Linked DNA regions of Homo sapiens. The protein of the gene in region 1 interacts with the protein of each later gene in a pairwise test. Each region holds a gene or a part of one and is shown on either strand. Other genes may lie near its edges. The genes, in order: ZNF319, BEGAIN and VWC2.

Region 1 (7,644 bases):
GCACTTGTAGGGCTTCTCACCGGTGTGGATCCGCTCATGCCGAGAGAGCTCCGACAGGTGCTTGAAGGGCTTTTGGCAGATGGGGCAGCTGTAGGGCTTGTCGGCCTGTTCAGCAGGGGTGACAGTGGAAGGCGCGGGTGCTGCGGGAAGCGACGGGGCGGCTGTGGTGGCTGGCTCCGCTGCCTCAGCTGGCTTGTAGGTCTTTTCACAGATGGAACACTTCACCAGGCCACTGTGGGAGCTGTGGTGCTGTGCCAGTGAGGTGAGTAGTGAGAAGCCCATCTTGCAGACCCCACAGACGAAGGGCTTCTGCTCAGCCTGCACGCACTGGTGCTCCAGCAGGTCAGTGGCCTGGTGGAAGATCTTGAGACACTGTGTGCACTGGAATGAGCGGTCATGGCCCGCCAGACACTGGTGCTCATGCGGACTGGACAGGTGCGCCAGGTCGTGACCACACACGCCACATTTGGGGCCTGGCTCTCCTGCTGCCTGCAGGGGTGCGTGTTGTGGGGGCTGCAGGCCGGGGTCTGGCTGCAGGAGGATGCCATAGACGGCACAGCCCAGGGGGTTCTCCGCCGTGCCCGGAGGCAGCGTGTGCTCTGCCAGGGCTGGCGGTGGCTCTGCATGGTGCTGAGGCTGCGGTGGCTGTGGCTGCTGCGGCTGCGTCTGTGGCGGCTGTTGCCAGCTTTCCGACATGCTTGGGAAGATGAAACAGGGTTTGGAGAGTAATGGCTTCAGTTTCCCGCTTCACGTGACCCAATCCAGAGAGAGAAGCTGCCCAATCACAGAGATGGACAAGGACCTCAGACAAGGCACAGAAGAGGGGCTGGTCAGACAGCCCGAGTCAGTAACCAAGCGGACAGACTACAAGGCTCTGCCTACAGGACATGGGGGCTCTTCAAGGGAGGGTCCCAGCAGTGCCGGGGAGACTCTGCCTTCCCCAGTGATCCGTTCTGTAGAGAAGAGAGAAAGTATGAGCTCGAGGAAGGAACAAGCAGCAGTTTCCTGGGCCTTCTCCCTGTCCTGCCCGCACTCACCACACCATCACAAACCACACATCGGGGAAGGCAGAGGTGCTCAGGGCTGCAGGACTCCTCCCTTCTTAGGCAATCAGAGAGGTCTGCAGCCAGCTCAGCTCCTCCAGGCAGAGGAAATGGCAGCGGCCTCCACCCCCACCCACCTCAGTGCCCCGCCCCTGGGCCAGGACATCCCAGCCTCCACAAGTCCCCTCCAGCTTCCTGCCAACCCTTTAGCTGAGACTCACAGGTGAGAGTCCGGGGTTATCTGCCTACAATACAGAATCCTCCTTAAGGCCCGCAGCTCCTCTCCTGTTGCTACCCTGAGTCTTAATACGGGCCACACCACTTAGAGCTAAGGAGGCCAGACCTCCCAGGTCTGAGAGCCCAGTGGCAAATGGCCTCTGACAGTCAATATTTAGGACAACTACGTGGAACCAAGGACCATTTCAAAAACTCTCACCTATGAGGGACTGACCACACCCCTTCAACTATCCCTGACCACAGGCCCATTCTCTCTCCGCGTGACAGGATGGGTGGCCCTACAGGAACCAGAGCCCATAGGTGATGGGGGCTAGATGAGAGGGCCACAGAACCACCCAGGCTTGATGTCCACACAGCAGAACTTCCTCACTCTGGTTCTCTCCCAGAACTCACACACACACACACACACACACACACACACACAAAGTCCTAAATCCTCTGAATCTCATAGTGTCAAGGCCTGCAGGAAAATGTAAGAAACTGCCCTGGTCTGCCTTGGCAATGCAGGATGCAGCATGCTAACCACAGAGCATTTCTCATCACCTCTCTAGAGACAACTCCATTCCCTTACTCCAAGCCTATAAAGTTCTGGGTAATTGTTGGAAGGTAAAGCCCACCCAGCCCAGGCAAATCTCTAACTCACCACTTTGTGGCAGCATGAGGTAATGCCAGCGAGAGGGAGGAACTTTCAGAGTCAGATGCAACCCACTTCCAGGTTCCCAGCTCATCTGCCTCTTACATTTAAAAGTTTGTAAGTTTTCTCCTGAGCAGAGGAAGAAGGAAGGAGAAGCCTTCACAGGACAGTCTGGCCTCTAACTGCTCTGCCAAAGAAATGTAAGAGTCAGGCTAAAAGCTGTCATCCTCAGCATCTTCCGGAAGGGAGGGAGGAGAGGAGCGGCTGCTCTGGGTGGAGGCAGCAGGTTGCTTGAGCAAGCAGGTACCACTCTAAGCCTTCTCGGGACAGAGAGGGGGAAGGTGGGCTTCTCTGAGCGCCTGTAGGTCCGCTGTGCCAACCCACTGTTTTGTTTGCTTTTTCTGGCATGAATGGCTGTCAGACAGTGTCCCCTGGCTTGGTCTGCAGCACCCCCTGCCCACCCTGGCCCTCCTGCAGCAAGGTGCAGCCAGGAAGCCTCTGTGATCACTCCGCAAAGGGGAGAGAGGAGGCAAGGAGAGGCAGGGGAGGCCCCCCACCTGCGCCCCACCCCGTCTCTTCTTCCTCCCTGAGAAACCGAATGAAAGCCGATCACCTCCCGCCGGCCCTGCCTGCAGGCCCAGCTGGGCTGCGTCCTGTCAGCCCTCGTCCGGGATGGCCCGGCCGCTGCGACCCGAGGGCGAGCCCCGAGGGCGGCCGGGCTGGAGAAAGGCCCCAGGGCTACAGGCCGGGCCCAGGAAGCGGCTGCGCCTCGAGGCCCGGCCTGGGCCGCCCAGAAGCTCAAGAGGCCGCTAGGTCGCGGCGGAGGGGCGCGGGGGGGCGGCCGGGCCGGCAGAGGAAGGGGTGCGGCGGGCGCGGGGGTGGCCCCCAGATGCGGCCCCGGGCGCCCCGCCGCTCACCTGCTCCAGGCCGCCTGCAGGGCAGGCGCGGGGCGAGCGGCGACCAGCTGCTCTCTCGGCCGCCCCTTTATTCCGGCTCCATCCGCGGCGGCGCGGCCTACGCGCGCTGCCAATCCCCGGCCTCGCGTAGCGGCTGCGGCCGGACCGGGGGCGGGGGACGGGCTAGCGGCGGCCGGAACGGAGGAAGCGACGCGCGCTGCCGGAGTAGCGGGGCCGGGGCGAGGAGCGCCGGGAGGGCGGGCGGACGGACCGATGGCCTTGCGGAGACGGGCGGACGGGCGGGCGGCGCGGGGGCCAGGGAGGCGGGGCCGGGGGAGGAGCGGCATCCCGGGCGGCGGCGGCCAATGCGGGAGGAGCGGGCGGCGCGGAGCGAGGCCGCCCCCTGCCGGGGACCCCGTGGCCGGGCCAGGTCGGACAAGCCGGGTGCTCCGGGCGGTTTTCGAGTCGCCAGGCCTGGGCGCCTCGACTAACCGAGGAAGGGCGCTCTGCTTCCGGCCACCCCGCTCGGGCTTAGGGGAGGGGGCTCCGGGTGACCGCCCTCGGCCCGGCTCTGCGCAGGAGAGGAGGGGCCTCCTAGAGGCTCTGGTCTGCCACAATTGATCCGCCCCTAACTGCTCAGCTTGGCTTTTAGGGGCTTGGACTTTGGGCTGGTTTGAGGAGGGGGCTCCAGGACCTCTGATCCTGGCCGGGCTCGGGGCAGGCAGGGGTCTCCGCTGGGTCTAGTGCGCTGACCCGGGACTGTCGTGTCTGGTATGTCTGGTCCCGGGTGGCTGCAGACAGCAGCGGGCAGAAAGGTGAGGGCCCTGAGCGATATATGAAATGGGTACACGAAGGCTGGGGAGGTCCCAGCGGGGTGCCGGGAGGCTGCAGGTGACCAGATCCGCGTGCGCAGCCGGCAGACAGCTTGGAGTCGGTGGGCTGAATCTTCACCACTGTCCTGCCGGGTTCCGCCCCTCCCGGCTCCGCCCCGAGGCGGTGCCAGCCCAGGCCCCGCCCCTGGGAGGGCGCTTCCGGCACAGCGGAACTCCGGGTGCCGGTTGAGGTTGCTGGTGGACCTGCTCTGGTGGTCTTGGATGAGGCCCCATGAGCGCGGCGCCCCTGGTGGGCTACAGCAGCAGCGGCTCCGAGGATGAGTCCGAGGACGGGATGCGGACCAGGCCGGGGGATGGGAGCCACCGTCGGTGAGGAGTGAGGAAGTCTCTCCGGAGGGCGCGCGCATTCACCCTAGAGCCAGACGGGACCCGAATGTCTGGGGGTGGAGTGGGGAGGGAGGATGCGGGGCGGCTCTGGGAAGGAAAAGGGGACGCAGGAAGAAAGGAGGATCCAGAAGATATACCCCTCCCCCCCACCCCAGACAAAGCTCCAGAGTGGCCCCACCTGGCTAGGGCCAAGTTGGGAGGCCAGACCTGGGTTCGGGTCCAGCCTCGCGCTGGCCCACTCTATCGCCTGGCACACATCCCTGTACCATCCTAGGTCCGTTTCCTGATTTGAATACAATTGCGATAGTAATACTTGCTAAAGCGTAGGGAGAGCCTTTTCATTCATCCAGTAAATATTCACTGAGCACCCACTCCCTGCCAGGCTGGGGTCTGGTAATTCAGTGGTGAACAAAACCGTCGGCCTTACTTCCTGGGGCTTAGATTCTTAAATGCTAGGCCTTATCTTTGCTGAGTGCTTTACAAGCAGTAGCTCAGTTGATCCCACAATTGCTCTATCAGGTAGACATATACTTTCAGATGAGGCATTTGAGGCCCAGAAAGGGGACATGACTTGCCCAAGGTCATAGAGCTAGAAAGTGCTACTCCAGCTGCAGCCTGTCCAGCTTGGAAATGTGACCCCTGAACCACATTGTTGCATGCCCTGTTGTTTCCCATGGGGACCTTGTGCCCCAGAGTTGGAGACCCCAATGAGACAATACTGGAGAAACAATTTCGCTATCTAGAAGCTGCTTCCAGCACCAGGCTGGAAACACACACTCAGAGCCACCATATATAAGGGGTTACAACTTTTGTGGTATATACAAAGGTAGAGAATGCTAACAGGATAAATGTACTCATTTTTCTTTTTTTCTTTTGCAGTGGCCAGAGCCCCCTTCCCAGGCAGAGATTTCCAGTACCTGACAGTGTGCTGAACATGTTCCCGGGCACCGAGGAGGGGCCTGAAGATGACAGCACAAAACACGGGGGACGGGTGCGCACCTTCCCCCACGAGCGAGGCAACTGGGCCACCCACGTCTATGTACCATGTGAGTGATGTGTGAAAGGCAAGTTGCCAAGACCCATAGACCCGTAGGTGCCTCATGAAGGGCAGAATCTGGCCCCAACTAGAAGGAAGAAACCAGAAACCTCTAACACTGGTGGTGGGAAAGTCATTGACTTAGCAGAGAAAGAGCAGGTTTCAAGAACTGGGGATTTTTCTGTCATCTTGGTTTTGAATTCGTAGCCTAAAATGTGTATTACCTCTGGGTATAATATTCTCCCTGTTCACGAGGAGGTGACCAAAGGAGAATCTGGAGCAGGGTGTCAAGGTCATGCCAGGCACTTTATTTCTGAGAGGGCCCTGGGTACGCTGGGTGTGCAAGGTTCAAATCCCACCCTAGCTCTGATCAGCAGGTGGAAGACAAAAAATGCCCAGGCTTCAGAGTCAGACCTCACTCCGCTGCCCACTACTCTGGGTGCCCTTTATAAGATACTAGACTTCTCAGAGCTTCAGTTTCTTCAAATCTAAAATGGGGGTAGCACTGGCTAGGCCAGGTGGCTCACACCTATAGTCCCAGCACTTTGGGAAGCGGAGGCAGGCAGATCACTTGAGCCCAGGTGTTTGAGACCAGCCTCGGCAACAGGTAGAAACCCTGTTTCTACCAAAAATACAAAAAAATTAGCCAGGTGTGGTGGCACACGCCTATGGTTCCCACTACTTGAGAGGCTGAGGTAGGCGGATTGACTGACCCTGGGAGGTAGAGACTGTGGTGTGCCAAGATCGCTCCACTGCACTCCAGCCTGGGTGACAGAGTGAGACTCCATCTCAAATAAGACAGTTTGGTGGCTTCTTACAAAACTAAACATACTCTTATCATAAAATCCAGCAATTACATTCCTTGGTTTTTGCCCAAAGGAGTTGCATTTGGTATTGACAGTGTTCTGGAGTTTAGCCATTCTAATAGGTGTGTAGCAATATGTCACTGTTGTCTGTTAATTTGCATTTCCCTGATGACATATGATCCAGATCATCTTTTCAATGCTTTTTGCCATCTGTGTATCTTCCTCAGTGAGGTGTCTGTTAAGGTCTTTTGCCCACTTTTTAATCATTTTTGTTTATTAATATTAATCATTTTTGTTTATTAATAAATTTTAATCATTTTTGTTTATTTAATATTATGATGTGGGTCTAATATTGGATCTTAAAATATTGAGTTTTAAGAGTTCTTTATATTTGAAATAATAGTCCTTTATCAGATACGTCTTTTGCAAATACATTTTTTTCCCAGCCAGTCGCTTGTCTTTTCATTCTCTTGACGTTGTCCTTCACAGAGCAGAAGTTTTTAAGTTTAATGAAGTCCAGCTTATCAATTATTTCTTTCATGGATCTTGCCTTTGGTGTCATATCTAAAAAGTTGTCACCAAACCCAAGATCATCTACATTTTTCTCCTATGTTATCTTTCAGGAATCTTACAGTTTTGCATTTTACATTTAGTTCTGTGTCCATTTTGAGTTAATTTTTGTGAAAGGTGGAAGGTCTGTGTCTAGATTCCTTTTCTTATATATGGATATCCAGTTATTCCAGCACCATTGGTTGAAAAGACTCTCTTTTTCACATTGTATTGCTTTTGCTCCTTTGCCAAAGATCGGTTGACTGTATTGATGTGGGTCTATTTCTGGGTTCTCAATTCTGTTCCATTCATCTATTTGTTCACCAATACCATTGGTGAACTGTTTTGATTGCTGTAACTTTACATAGTTAAGTCTCGAAGTTGGGTAGTTTCAGTCCTCCAACTTTGTTCTTCTCCTTCAGTAGTGTGTTGACTATTCTGGGTTTTTTGGGGGCTTTTTTTGGTTTTTTTTAGAGATAGGGTCTCACTATATTGCCCAAGCTGGTCTTGAATTCCTGGGCTCAAGCAATCCTCTGGCCTCAGCCTCCCAAAGTGCTTGGATTACAGGGATGAGCCACAGCACTTGGCCTGTTTTGGTTTTTTACCTCTCCATGTACACCTTAGAATCCGTTTGTCAGTATCACAAAATAACTTGCTGAGATTTTGACTGGGATTGTATTGAATCTGTAGATCAAATTGGGAAGAACTGACATCTTTACAATATTGAATCTTTCTGTCTATAAACATAGAATATCTTGTAGGGTCCAGCCCCACTGGGTCGGTGGGTTTTCTCCCTGTGTGCGGAGACGAGAGATTGTAGAAATAAAGACACAAGACAAAGAGATAAGAGAAAAGACAGCTGGGCCCGGGGGACCACTACTACCAAGACGCGGAGACCGGTAGTGGCCTCGAATGCCAGGCTGCGCTGATATTTATTGGATACAAGACAAAGGGTCAGGGTAAGGAGTGTGAGCCATCTCCAATGATTGACAAGGTTACGTGAGTCACGCCACTTGGACGGGGGCCCTTGCCTGCCTGGCAGCTGAGGCAGAGAGAGAGAGGGAGAGAGAGAGGACAGCTTACACCATTATTTCTGCATATCAGAGACTTTTAGTACTTTCACTAATTTTGCTACTGCTAGCTAAAAGGCAGAGCCAGGTGTACAGGTGTGAAGGCAGACTAGGAGCATGACCACTGAAGCACAGCATCACAGGGAGATGGTT
Region 2 (7,499 bases), on another chromosome or scaffold:
GAGAAGACGGGAGGGCGCTGGTGGTTTCCAACCCCCTGAAACACTGTCCTGCCTCGGCAGAGGGGGTTAGCCCTGCCCCTGTGGGGCCACAGTTGTAGCTCAGAACTTTCTGGGCCATTGTTAAACGGTAGAGACTTCTTGGGGGGAATTTCTCATCACCTGAGGTGTGCAAGGAGGGGCTAGATGCCTCTTTTAGCCTGATGTATGGTTTTGACTATGAGCCTTGCCGGGCATCAGCAGTGGGATAGGTGGGAGGGGCCTAGCTGGGAGCAATCTGGGAAAGCTTGCAAGAAGAAGCAACTTTGGGAGCTGAGATGAGGAGGTTTCCACATGGACACTCCACAGAAGGGCATCTCAGGATGAGGGAACTCCCTGTGCAAGGACCCGGAAACAGAAGGTATGGACAGGGATGATGTAGCCGGAGCTCAGCCTGGCTGGGGAGGGCACCACAGCAGCAGCAGGGCCGAGCCTGGCCCAGGACCTAGCAGGTGGGCCCCTGAAGGAGCCCAGACCCCCAGGTGGCCTTGGTGAACCCCTGCTGACTGTTCGCAGCAGCACGCACACCCAGTGGCAGTTTCTGTCTTAGTGAGGCCACCTCGGTGCCATCCCCTGCTCTGTGTCCGCTCCCCTTGCCCAGGCTCAAGCATGGGAGGCCCAGGATGGTGCCCTCCGTACCCAGGCCCAGGGCATAAAGAGATAAGCCCAGTCACACTGAGATGAGATGGGATTTTGCTTGACAAATATTTGTTTGAAAATGGTTTCCCCTATTTACAGTTTTGAAGCCCAAGCCACAGCATCCAAACCACCTCCACCTGCTGGAAAGGCCTGACAGGGGCAGAGGCCCAGGGAGGAGGCCACTGCTGCTTCCCATGGAGACAGAGCAGGGCAGGCAGTGGGGTGGAGGCCAAGGGGCTCACAGCACCACCCCAGGAGGAGCAGTGGGCCAGACCCCTGGGCCTGGGACCTGCCTCGGACAGAGCACCTACGAGGCTCCCAGCTGCCTGTGCCCGCTTCCTACGGTCCCAGGCCCCCCTCATCGTTGCTCCCAGGACAAGCAGGTGAAGGAACAGGGCAGCGGGGTACGGTTAGGGTTAGGGCTGGGGTTAGGATTAGGGTTAGGATTTGGTTTGGGATTAGGGTTAGGGTCAGGTTGGGATTAGGCTTAGGTTTGGGGTTGGGATTATGGTTAGGATTTGGGCTAGTGCTTGGGGTGTTTTTGGCAGTGTTTAGTGTTAGGGTTAGGGCTGGGTTGGGGTTTGGTTTAATGTTCCTTTTGGGATTTGGTTTTGGGTTGGCGTCTGGGTTAACTTTAGCGTGTGGTGTGGGTTGAGGTTATTGCTTTCTGGCAGGACAGTGTTGGGGTTAGAGTCGGGTTTAGGGTTCATGTTACTGTTCAGGCTAGCATTGGGGTAGGGTTAAAGTTTGCTTTGGTTTTGGGTCCCATTAGAGTTAGGTTTAGCATTTGATATAGGTTGGAATTTGGGTTAATATTGCAGTTGGGGTCATTGTTAGATACACACTTGGGCCAATTCAGGGCCTTCTCACCACCTGTGGAGGGCAGCTGTAGCCCGATTCTGCAGGGGACTCCAGAGTTTCAGTTGGAGCACCTGTTGTTTGTGGGAGAGTGGGAAGATACCTCTCACCTTCCCATTCTCTAGGGCTCATAGTCAGAACCCTTGCTCAATCTGTTCTTGTGGGTGGGGATTGGAAGATGAGGCAGGGAACTGGTCAGCATGGCTAGCTGATGCTGGAGCCCCTGTATGTGGCTGTCTGCGGGTGCCTCACTGTCAATGACTTCCCTGACGTGCTGTCCTTTCTTTTATACTCAGCCACCAGGGCCAGAAGCCTGGCATCACACCAGGCTATTCCTATCTCCCCCACCTCCATCCATCCATGCATTCTTTGGCACATTTAACCATGAGCCCCAGTGTGGTGCCACTTCCTGCCCTGCTCCCTGACCACAGTAGAGGACCACGCATCCCAGCGGGGAGATTGATGTCCACATCAACAGACAGATCAGATAGCTCTGGAACGCAGTAAGAGACACGCAAAAAACAAAATAGGGCAACGAGATTGAGCCATGGGGATGGTGATGTCAAACAGAGTGGTCCGTAGAGGTCTGAATGAGGGCAGGGGCCTGAGGAGAGGGTCCTCCATGGCCCCAGGGCATCACCTCGAAGTCCTGCCACTTTCATCCCTTCTTCCCAACCCGGCTGAAACCTTGCCTCCTCCAGGAAGCCTGCCTGATGCCCCAGGCTCTGCTGCACTGACTGTAGTTTCCCCATCTGCAAAAAGGGGCTAGTACCACTTCCCCTACAGGGGCATTGCAGGGATGCTCCCAGACCCACAACCAATGCCTGCTTTCTCTCCGCCTTCCTAGCTTAAGGGGGCTGGAGTGGGAAGGATAGAAGAGAGGGCAGGGAGGGTGGGGACGGGAGGTGCGTGCAGCATGGGGGAGGGGCTCTCCTGGGGCCTTCCCAGGCAGGCCTGAGCTGAAGCCTGCAAGCTGCTGGAGCTGAAGCAGGAGCCGCCCCCACCCCACCCGCCCCTCCCCCGCCTCCCCAGCCATCTGTGGCGTTGGCAGCAGCAGTGCCAGGGCGGGCGGTGAACATTCTGGCACCATCTGAGCAGGACCAGCCTCTGGGGAAGGGCCGCAGCCCAGGAGGAGGCAATGTGGGCAGAGCCCTGCCTGTACCCCAGGTTCCACATCCCCCATTGGTGTTTGTCCCCTTAGGGACTGGGGAGGGAAGGGACACTGGAGCTGGCAGGCTGGGCCTCACTACCTCTCACAGGATGCCTCCACTGCTGTGTGCTGCCTGAATGGTGTCTGAACCTGAGAGGCCAGAGTGGAGGTCAGGGAGCCTGTCCCTACTCCTGCTGGGGAGACTAAGGCCCCCTTGAGCAAAGAGGCTGGTCCCGTGGTGCACACCAGCGACGGTTTGGGCGAAGTCTGTCCACGCTTCGCCCAAACTGGGAGAGCCCCGCCCTGAGCTGCCGCCTCTCATTTTGTCTTGACTGTGGTGGGGTGCACTTGGAGGCGCCTCCCTCTGTCCATTGGTTACCCAATCATGTCCCTGGGACCTGAGAGGGAGCAGAGACAGGACTTTGCTTGACACGAAGTGGCTCCAGTCAGCTGCTGGTTCTTTTGCTTGTCTCCTTTTTTTCTGGGTTTCCCCTCTTGCCTTGCTATCAGTGCCTTTTCTCAGCACTGACACTGCCTGAATGTAGCAACCTACTCCCCAGATTAAATGAGAGAGCGTAGAAACTGCAAAGCATACAACATACAGCATATAAGGATGGTGGTGATGGCAGCTCAACAGTGGGAACTCAGTGTCCCCAAACTGTACACTTTAAAAGTGGTTAAAATGGTAAATTTTATGTTTTCCATGTTTTCCACAATTAAAAAACAAAAATATACAAGGTACTCATTCGCAGCATCTTCTAATCTGCCATGTACTTGGAAATGATATAAGCATGTGTGAACCATGAGCCCATAGGTCCCGAGGGAGGATATGAGCGAAGCACACGGGCTTTGCCAGCTCTGTTTCCACCACGCAGGACCCTCCCTGGCTGCCAGTGCTCCTCCCCGGGTTCCCACGCTGGCTGCTGCTGGGCTGGCTGGGATGGAAGACCCTCATGTAGCTGGCACCCTCAGGGCTGCCCCTTGCCCGCTCTGGGAGGAGAGAGGAGGGTTCACGCTGCACCTTTACCAGGGTAGGACTGGCCAGCCTGGGCTCTACCGGGCAGGTCGGTGGGATGCTTCAGACTGGAGGGATAGGCAGGGGGCAACACTGGTCCTCCTGAAGCCACCTTCCCTTCCTGAGAGCTCCTTGGGGAGAAGGCAAGCCCTGGAAGCCACCGACTGGGGGCTCGGGCAGAGCAAGGGCAGGGTAAGGGGCAGCTTGGCCAGGAGGCACCCTTGGGAGCCAGGGTTTCCTCATCTGTAAAATGTGACTCTGCGAGGGCAGGAGCTTGGTTTCACTCGCTACTGTACCCCCTGGGGCCTACAGCAGGGCTGGTTGGTACACACTAGGTGTCTAATAAATGTTGAGGGATTGAATGGATGGACCGATGAAAAGGTTGGGCAGGTCATTACTGACAGCCTCTGGGTTTCAAGGGCCCATTCACTCTGTCACTCACCTTCGCGCCCGTGCATTAGTTCTCTCATTTATTCATTCCCCCCGCCCCCCCAGCCCCGCATGCTCTACCGCACTCATTCATTCACGCGCTCAGCCATTCAAGCTGGCGCGGGTTCATTCATTCCCTGCCCCTCTGCCATTCCTCGCCTGGCCCCCGCGCACGCCGCACCCCCGCGCCCCTGCCCGGCCCTGCGCCCACCACTTGCGCCCCGGCCGGGCGCTGCCGGGAGGACGCGCGGGCTCAGCCGCGGCTGCGCGGGGCCGGGGCTGGCGGGGAGCCGGGCTGGGGGCGGGGGGCGGGCGCTCCCTGCGGGAAGCCGGGCGGGGTGGGGGAGCCCCGGCCGCGCCGGCTCCCGGCGCGCTCGGCCTCGGAGGGGAGGGGGCGGCGGTAGCGGCGGCGGCGGTGAGCGGCGCGGCTGCCCTGGGGCCATGTGGACTGGCGGTCGCCGGCCGGGCCGGCTGCGCCGGGCGGTGAGTACCTGCGAGCCGGGAGGGCAGGGCGCGGGCGCGGGCGCGGAGGCGGGGCGGGCGCCACCCACGCCTGGGGCGGTCCCTGCTCAGCGCGGGAGGTGGCCGGCCCCCCGCCCCGCTCCCCTCCGCGCTGCGCCCCCGCCGTGGAGGCTTCACTGGCCCGGGAGGAGCCGGGCCGGGTCTCCTGGGAACTGGGCACTCTCGGGTGGGGCGGGGATGCCCAGCCTCCGCGCGCCGCCGGGAGCGCCCGGGTCCTATCGCGGGGTCCTTGCGCCCTGACACGCGCGCCCCTGCGGCGGAAGGAAAGGAGGGACGGGTGACCAAGGGCGCGGCCGGAGGACTGGGGACCCGCCGCTGTCCCGGGCGGGTGGCGAGGGTGCGGGCAGGCCTGGACCCGCCTGCGTCTGGGGGCAGGGCCAGCCCCTGCTTGGGAGGCCGGAGAAAGGCCCGGGAGCCGGAAGGAGGCTGGACCCGGGGCCGCCTCATTGAGCGTTTGCAGCGCGTGGGCGCGCACGAACCTCGGACACCACCATCCCATTCAGTACCTCGCGGCAGGTACTATCCTCCTGCCCCTTTACAGGCGAGGAAACTGAGGCTCAGGGAGGCCAGGGCCTCGCCCAGAGCGGCTCAGCCGGCGCGCTCACCCTCCCTGAGCCCCAGCACGTTGGATGGGAATTTCTGCCCCAGCGTTTCCGCTTCCTGCTTGGTTTAGAGGTGTTTCCTTCCTCGTCTGTGCCCCACCCCATCCCCAATGTGGTTTCCTCAGGGCAGGAACAGCGTGGGCGACGCGCTGGAGTCTCCTGAGCCGGCAGAATGGGAGCAGAGTGGGCACCCGGGAGCGGGGCCGGATGGATAGGGAGCACTGCACGTGCAAAGTCCGCATGGCCAAGGTCGGCCGCCAGTGCAGACTGGGGGTCCAGGCCCTGGGGGTATGGGTGGGGCGGGGTCTCCACAGCCAGGCTCCGTCGGAGGCCCCAGTGCTCTGGCTCTCTGGAGGCCATGGACAGGTTCTTTTCCTTCTCTGGACCCTAGTTCCTCTGCCTGCCAAGAGCAGCAGAGACCCCCACTACTCCCAGGGCCAGGCTCCCACGAGGACTGTGGGCAGAAGCCCCTAACAAACTGCGGTGTGCAGCCCTGCCAGGCTGGCCTTGGTCTTGCCAGCAGGGGCAACTGGCCGTTGGGGGTGGCTCTGCCTGGCATCTGTGACACGCAGGGCGGGGAGACGGCAGAGAGGGCCCCAGCAGCATCCTGCAAACCCTTAATTTTCCCGACTCTCACTATAATCAGGGCAGCTTGGAAAAGCAAGCACTGTGGCAGATGCGGCTCTGCCCGGGCTCAGCACACGGGCTCTGGGCGATGGGCGGCTGCGCTGCCGCCAAGGGCCCTCCCCAGCTTTTGTCTCATATTTATAGATTCCAAGGCTCCGCGTTCCGTTTGTCGTCAAAACCTGGAGCTGTTCGCACCTGGGAGCTGAGTGGGGAGGGGAGGGCTGCCTAGAACCTCAGCCTGGAGGATGAGTTTTCCATGCGCTGGGGTGGAGTAGGGGGACACCTGTCAGAGCCCAGGCCTGGAGAGAGGAAATGAGCCCTAAGCAATCTGGAAGATCTTCCATCCACTCTCCCAAGACTTGGGCGCAGGGTCTGGCCCACATAGCTGCCATTTATGGAACGCCTGCTATGTACTGGGCCCTGGATCAGCATTTCCACGCATCATCTCCACGGCAACACTTTGAAGGAGCTTCCCTACTCCTGCAGGCACTCCTGATGCTGAAGAGTGGATGGATGGATGAATGGATGGATGGATGGATGGATGGATGGATGGATGGATGGATGGGAGGGAGGGAGGGATGGATGGGAGGGATGGATGGATGGGAGGGAGGGAGGGAGGGATGGATGGATGGGAGGGAGGGAGGGAGGGATGGATGGGAGGGAGGGAAGGAGGGATGGATGGGAGGGATGGGAGGGATGGATGGATGGGATGGATGGATGGATGGATGGGAGGGAGGGAGGGAGGGAGGGATGGATGGATGGATGGATGGATGGATGGATGGATGGGAGGGATTGACTGAAGCCCATGAGTCCATGGCTATTGGACACAGTCCACAAATCATTACCCAGGGTCCCAGGAGGTGGGGTCCAAGGGCTGAGTAGTTGCTGAACAGATGAAGGGGTCAAGGTGTGTTACAGGAGCCTGGCCCAAGGCCTGAAGGTGATGGGGAGAGTGTAGAGTGTTCAAGTCTCAAGACTTAGAGAGGCTGTGTCCTGCTGGAGTGTGGAAGCCATGGCGGTGGGGAGGTGTGGCTCCTCCCCCTAAGGGAGGTAAGGATCCCTGGGACAGATGGGTGGGTGACCCTAGGACTCGCCGTGTTGGTCTAGAATCACCCCGCATGGTTCTCTTCTGACTCCCCTTCCTGCCGCAGAGCTGGTCGCTAGCCTTAGTGGAGAGGCCTGGACGGAGGTCTGCAGCCCTGGGTTCTGGTTCCTCCTCTGCCGCTGACTCACTGTCTCCTCTCTAGGGCTCCGTATCAGAAGCTTAACACCCATTACAGTCAGGGGAGTGACTTCTGTGGCCTGAGAGCAGGCATCAGATTGTAGCCTGTGGTGGGAGAAGCTGGCCAGAGGTGTCTCTATTGCTTTAATCATTATAGGAATGAATGAATGAATGAATGATGAATGACTAAGTGTGTGAATTCTACACTCACCTAACATGCTGTACCTAAGCACCCACTCTGCACTGCTCATTGGGGTCACTTAGGTGAGTCTGACACAGACCTTGCCCTCCACGAGTCCACAGTTTGCTGGGAGACATGGACCTTGGCCAGTACGGCAGGAGTCAGGAGCTGCTGGGGCTCTTCTCTCCCCTCTAGCCAGGAAGGGAACTCAAAAGTGG
Region 3 (7,103 bases), on another chromosome or scaffold:
TATTCATATAAAAAGCCATTTCCCTAGATTATGTGTTTAGGGTATCATGCAAATGTTCTAAAAATTAAAAGAAAAAGAAAATATTTGCTCACTGGGTGCCAAATCATAGTGGATGGTGAAACCAACAAGTGCAGTTAATGGTTAAAAATTGTTTTGTTTCAGATGAGTAGTAGTAATGTTAATAATACCGGCCATCTCTCTAATGCCTACTGTGCGTCAGGATCCCGCTGGTTTTCATGTACGTTAGTTAAATCTCATCCCATGCTAGGAGGTGGATTATTATCCATTGTCTCCATGTTATGGAGAAGAGGAAACAGACACAGAATATTTAAATAATGTGTTGAAGGCAGAACAGCTATTAAGAAACAGATTCATATGTCAAACTAAGCAGTTCTACTCCATAGCTTAGGTTTTTAACCCTTATACTCTACTTGAACCAAAAGCCCAGCTCCACTGGGGCTTTAGTTTGGGTGAAGGTGCTGCACAGCATGCATGCACAGGCTCTAGGTAAAATCTCTGCCAGTGGGCTAGGGGCCTGAGAGAGACCTGCACAGGTGTTCAGTTATTCCAAACACCTCAAGGTAGGTTCAACCTATGGCCTGCCTGGACTTAGCCCATTGACTTACCAGGCCATAGCTGTCCTTTTCCCACCTGCAGAGGGCGTTATGGAACGTGCAGCTACTAAAGCAAAGGTTTAGGGAGGAATTCTGCTGGAATACCCCTCCTGGAATTAGCCTGTGAGATCTGCTAATTCCCAGGATGTGAAGCCCATGTAATTACTGACTTGTGGCAATGAATTATCAAGTGTTATATAAGTACAAAGCCAGGAAGGACAGATCTATATATAGTGTACAAAGTATGGAAAGAGTGCTGGAATTTAGAGTCAGGAAACATGGTTATTCATTCTGGCTTTACCACTAACCAGCTGCAGGACTGGAACAAAAGACATATGCCCTCTGGGTTTCTTTTCTCTTATCTGTAAGATAAGGGGCCAGCTTTCCCTAGGCTCATGTAGCAAAATATAACTCCAGGCATACATTGCTTAAGTACTCACATTTGACTGCAGCCCTTTGGAGAAAGACAACTGGGATGAGCAACTCATATGAACCACGCCCAGGCCATGCAAAATTAACTAAATCAGAAACCCTGCCCTCAAAATGCTTCCTGCCTACGGGAGGGTCTGGTAGATATCTCTCCAGGTGTTTTGGGTGCAGAACAAAAGTTCACAGGCAAATGTGTCCAGGTAAAGGAACCTGTGGGTGCTAGAAGAGCTCAGAGGAGGGGCCTTCCATTTTGGCCTGGAGCAGGGTCATAGAACACTAGAACAATTCTCTTAAGTTTTGAATTGGTAACATCATCGGCTCTTCTAAAGTCAAAGATAAGCAGTTGGTTTTTAATTAATTCCTTTTGTTGTTTGCACTATTTATAGTTTCATAGTAATTTTCTGGAATTGTCCTTAGAAGTAAACTGAGGAATTAGTAGCACTTTGATCTAGTAAGCCCAAATACTTCAGTGTCCACTTACCTACCTGAGATCACAGGTAAAGGAAATAATTCAAACTTCTGTCTTAACAATTCATGCTAAATGCTAGCAGCCATGAAGCTGCTTTTGTCTATGGAGGAGAGGGATCTCTCATTTAATTTCCTCTTTGCTACCTGTTTGGTAGTCCATAGGTAGAATGTGTTTTCAAACTCTGAGGATGGGAGATGATATTGACAAAAGGGAAATTGGAAAGATTACAATCTTAGGAAGAATTAAAATACCAGTAAAGCTATTTTTGGAATATTAAGTGCATCTTCCATCTTCAAATGACGTTTCATTCTAAACTTTCATCATTTATTACCAGATGCTGGGATGCACACATGCTTGAACGTTGCAAAGTTGTTACATATTTTTAATTATATGCTTGTTCTTACAATATGTCAACTACATAAAGATTTTATAGTGTTAGAGCATGTTTGCTCATTTTTGTTAGTATCGGGAACATTTCTAGGCATTCTGCTAATTTATCGTGGCCTTGTGCAAGCCATTTATTGTCTCCATTTTTGTTTCCTTCAATGTACAAAAGAGAAAGCAATGCTTTTTTTGAAGAATGTTGAAAATATGAATGTAGAATGGTATAGGGTTAGTTGTGAGTCCACGGGCTTTGTGGGTTGCAGTAATGGAGATTTGTCATGATGCTGAGTACCAGGGCACAGAAATTGTTAACATGCCTGCTCTGGGTATTCTGGGTTTCAGAGAGAGATTGTAGTCTGTAATGTGCATAGCACAAAGTACATGGAAAATGAAAAAGGAAAGCATTCTGTCTGAAGTGCTTTGCACTTCTCTGAAGAAAATGTGATTCAAATGGAGATTGTGGTACAGTCGGGTCATGCCTGGAACACTGTTTACTTTAGCAAGGAAGGAAGTGAAAGTGAGATTATTTGGGCCTCAGTCCCTGCAAGATGCATAGATCCTTTAACAGTCTGTTCTCTGCTTCCAGAGAGGGAGAGAGAGAGAGAGAGAGAGACAGAGACAGAGAGAGAGGGGAAATTACTAGTTATTGATGGAGGCTTGACCCTCTTTGAGCAGTAGATTAACTCCAGAGCCTGGCTGTGCTTGTGATGTGCAGGGTATTTGGCTCCGGCAGGAGTGCGGTTTCTCCCTGTCTTCATAGGCTTCTCTTTCTTTGGGCATGTTTTGTTGCTGCTTTCTCTACTCAGTTTTCTGCATATTCTAAACTTGTTTTTTCCCTTCTTTCTGTACTCTTTTACCCCATTAAAACTTCCTCTCTTTACAGCCTGTTTGATCTCAGTTAGATACTTGTGAAAGATCTCACTGACTCCACAAAATACCATTAAGCTGCTAATAATAATGAGAGTAATGTGTTCATTCCTCCAGGGATGGTTGTAATTTAATTTGTACATCCAAATAAAAACATAGTTAATAGTAGAATTTTCTCCACTGCCTCTCAAATGATACCAAGTGTCTTTTTTTCTTTAACTTATACCAGCAGGCATCCAACTTTGAATAAGGAAACTTGTCTATTGGCTTATTTTTTTTTTTCAGTAAAGGAATGATATTTTTAACTGTTTTCTGCTTCCTACAGTACATTAGTCTGCTAGGGCTGCCAGAGCAAAGTAACACAGACTGGGTAATTTAAACAGAAATTTGTTGTCTTGGAATAAATCTGGAAATCCAAGATTTTCAGACTTCCACATTTCCAAGTAATCTGGAAGTCCAAGATCAAGGTGTCAGCAGGGCTGGTTTCTTCCGAGGCCTCTCTCCTTGGCTTGCAGATGTCCATCTTCTTCCTGTGTTTTCTCATGGTGTTCCCTCTGCATCTGTCTGTGTCCACATCTCCTCTTCTTATAAGGACACACTCATATTGGATTGGGGCCTGACTTCATTTTAACTTAATTACCTCGTTAAAGACCTGTCTCCAGACAGTCATATTCTTAGCTACTGGCGTGAGGACTTCAAAATTTGAATTGTAGAAGCACACAGGTTAGCCCAAAACATAGTGTCAATGACCAAAATTGACTTCCTAAAACAGACCTAACGAGGTAGTAACAGTGGGGTGTGTGAGGATGCATCAGCACACATGATGGGAAAACAGTGCTTATGACGAAGGCACGGAGTGAGTGGTGATGAAGTGTATGCCAATGAACATTAACTGAGGGGCTCAACTTGACCATTCTGATTCTGTGTCTATTGCATTCTGAGAGCTACTTTAGGAGTTCCTGTATTACTTATGTGAATGGATCCTTGTGTCACAGAAAACTAAAAGGTGACTAAGGGTAGGGAGAGGGGCTGTATTGAGCAGTTGTAAATTTTGCCTCAGTGGCCACATGATTTGTTCAGAAGCAAATCACATTTGAAATGTGTTAATTGAAAAAAAATCATTCTATTTTGCTCAACAAAACAAGTTGTTTTCATCATGGGAATCTTGGTCTCCTGGAGGACTGTGATGGTGGAAAGGGGAGTTTGCAAGCTTATTTCATGTTTTATAAAACCTAATGGAATTTTTGTGACTCTGAAATAGGGCCATACAGGATAACTAAATCTTCACATTTCTTTGCTTTTGGTAGGATTGATATCAGCAAAGTGTGTCAACACTGGTTATCGTAGCCGATCAGGAGCTCTGATTGGCAATTGTATAAGTCTTTGAAGAAAAAGGGAAGATGAATTATTAATAAGTGAAGCTTACTAGACTGTCTTTCAAAGCATAAGAACTGTTGAGAGAGAGATAACAGGAAGGGGTACTTGGAGGTGAAATGATTTGGGACCACTGAGTTAAACCAAATTCTCTCTGACTGCCTCCGTATCTGACTTGCCATTAACCCCACTGCAAAATCTTATTTCTAGGTTTTTATCAATTAAAAAAATTTGAACATGAAATTTGGAATCAAAACCTTCATCTAAATAGATCTCTATATCAATTATGAGAAAGTGCCAGCAAAGAGAAAGCTACGGTTATTCACACTTTTCAGTCTAATGGTATTTATATTCTTTTGGCTGATGTTACTTAACTGAAAACAATGCTATTATTATCCACCTTCACTAAGTAAAATGAGTCAATCTGTGTTCTTTTCTGCAAGTCAGGCTAATGCATGTACTGTTGCTGTCTCTGAGTTTGTTTTGGTTCTGAGTAAGATTTTGTAAATTCTCTACTTCTCATTTTCTACCCTTGTGTCTAAAGCCATTTAAACAGTGACTTTTTTTTTTAAAGAGGGAGTCATATGCCATATCTAGACTCTTTAGATGTGTTCCTAACTCAGGTGGGGGAAACACAGCTTTAAAAACTGCTTATTTGCATGTTCCATACAATATCTGATGTGAAGTATGATAGAATTAACACCATAATCTTTTACAGTGGGCAGAAGGGAATCAATATTTATCTAGTGCCAATATTTTTTATATATTGGCTTTTCTGGAGTAATTTACACAACAGACTGAGTTGGTGGTATTTTCTTTATTTTTAAAGGAGAGAAAACTAAGGTCCGAAAAAGTTAAATAGCTTGATCAAGGTCATAGAGCTAGTAAATGGTGAAGACAGGATTTGAATCCTAGCGTGTTGGACTCTGAAGATCGTGCATAGTGTCTTCGTGACCATATGGTGATGAAGTGGCATTTTGCGTGTGGTGGAGAACATTTCAGGTACCCGGAAAAAGGAAAAGTTATACAAGCCCAGAGTGCCTTGCTTATATGTATGTCCAATAAATGCTTGATCCACTTGGCTAAGCATTTATTTACATGGATTTGTCATATTTGACTTGGCCATCTGATGAACAAAATAATGTCTGTGTCCTTCAAAGGATGAAGTCTTGAGTCGTAATGGGACTAAAAGCACTTAGTCCCAGGATTTCCCTGAGAGCAAGGGGGAATGAGTCCAGGGGGCAGTGAAAAGAAGACTAGATCCCAAGAGGCAGGTAGGACTCCAGGGATTATCAGACCCATGTGGGGCAACAGGTGGCCCAAGAGGAAGATCTGGTTCTAGGAGGTATTCTATTTGGCTCATGGCATATAAAACATTTGTTTACTAGTGCCTGTATTTGACAAGCGGGAGGTTCATATAAATTCCCAGATTGCCTAATTCTTACAAAAATGAAATGATTCCCAGATGGCAGCCATCTGTCAGAGCTGGGCAGGGCTGCCCCTTTGGGAGGGCATTTGTTTTCCAGCTGACCACACCCCCCTTGCAGATGTGTGATTCACCCATGCTCCTGTAAATAAATACATGACTTTGAAAAGCCTCTTGTTCATAGGCAGTGAAAATTCACCTTAGAAAATTAGTGCCCCCTCCAAAATCATACAGGCAGTTGATATCATGAGGAGGTTTAGGAAAGCAGGTCCCATGCTCTCCAGTCCTTTCCTCTTCAGTTTTGGTGGAGAATCAGCTTCTGGGACTTTGAGGACAGGGTACTTATCATCTGAACGGTGGGGTGAATGGGGTTCTGTTTTATCCAGTGCTTCCCTGGACAACTTTCAGAGCCTTGTTTTCTAGTGGTTAAAAAAAAAAAAGATAATGGGGCCTGGTGTGGTGACTCATCCCTGTAATCCCAGCACTTTGGGAGACTGAGGTGGGAAGATGACTTGAGTCCAGGAGTTCAAGCCCAGTCTAGACAACATAGTGAGGCCACATCTCTACAACAAATTGAAAAAAAAAAAAAAGGCCAGGCATGTTGGTGTGCTCACCTGTAGACCCAGCTACTTGAGAGGCAGAGGCAGGAGAATGGCTTGAGCCCAAGAATTTGAGGTTGCAGTGAGTCATGATTGGGCCACTGCATTCCAGCCTGGACAACAGCATAAGACCCCATCTTAAAAAACAGAAAAGAAAAGAAAAAAAAGTGGATAGTATTCTGCATTCCTCTCCCATTATAAGAAGTAAATAAGATGTATGTGAAAGCAATTTGAACCTGTAAAGCTCTGAACAAAGTTCATGTGGATATTTAGACAAGTTCTGCAGAGTGTGCAGCTCAGGGGGAGGTAGCCACGCCCTGGTCCAGATTTTGGTCTCTAGAAGGACTCTTGTAGAACCTCTAATCATTAGGGACTGGCTCCATGGAGCTGCTTTTCCATAAAACATTACCTCCTCAGATGATATCTCTAAATCTGATAAGTCCCAACGGAAACATTATTCTTACATTTATTTGAAAATATTTAGGACACCATGTGTGTGAGGCCCTGGGCTGCATCCTAGAGATGTGACGGGAAGTAAATGGCCCCCTCCAGGAGACAGGCAGCAGTAGTGTGGTGTGTGAGGCACTGTGAGAGCTTGGGTCAGGGGGTCAAGGGGGCACACAGTAGAAGCCACTCTATTATTATTAATAGACTCCACTGTTGTTGATGGCTTGTTTTTAAATGACAGAGGAATCCTGGGCCAGATGTTCTAGGGAAAAGAAAAGAGTGTATCAAATGTAACAACTGTGAGTTTGCATGAAGGATATGGCTTCCCACCCAGGCCTACCTACCCTGTGACCATCCTTCATGGTACTTTTCTGACCACGTAGCTGGAAATCCTTCTTACTGCTTGTCTGTTCCAAGGCTGAGATCCTGCCAGCTGGATCATACTTCTCATTCTATTTCTGTCGGGCACTGGGGTGCGGCCAGGACATAGACTG

The links.
Region 2: the proteins of ZNF319 (region 1) and BEGAIN interact in binary tests that used the Homo sapiens proteins (3 or more experiments, as listed by UniProt).
Region 3: the proteins of ZNF319 (region 1) and VWC2 interact in binary tests that used the Homo sapiens proteins (3 or more experiments, as listed by UniProt).

The regions. Positions count from the first base shown.
Region 1 is NC_000016.10:57,997,570-58,005,213, forward strand, and holds the start of ZNF319 (zinc finger protein 319), read right to left. Parts: upstream 3,104-7,644; 5' UTR 1,924-3,103; intron 954-1,923; 5' UTR 697-953; coding exon 1-696. Other genes in the region: USB1 (U6 snRNA phosphodiesterase 1), read left to right, coding at 3,915-4,012, 4,910-5,076. UniProt on the Homo sapiens protein: May be involved in transcriptional regulation.
Region 2 is NC_000014.9:100,584,360-100,591,858, reverse strand, and holds the start of BEGAIN (brain-enriched guanylate kinase-associated protein), read left to right. Parts: upstream 1-4,441; 5' UTR 4,442-4,568; coding exon 4,569-4,610; intron 4,611-7,499. UniProt on the Homo sapiens protein: May sustain the structure of the postsynaptic density (PSD).
Region 3 is NC_000007.14:49,776,552-49,783,654, forward strand, and holds part of VWC2 (brorin precursor), read left to right. Parts: intron 1-7,103. UniProt on the Homo sapiens protein: BMP antagonist which may play a role in neural development. Promotes cell adhesion.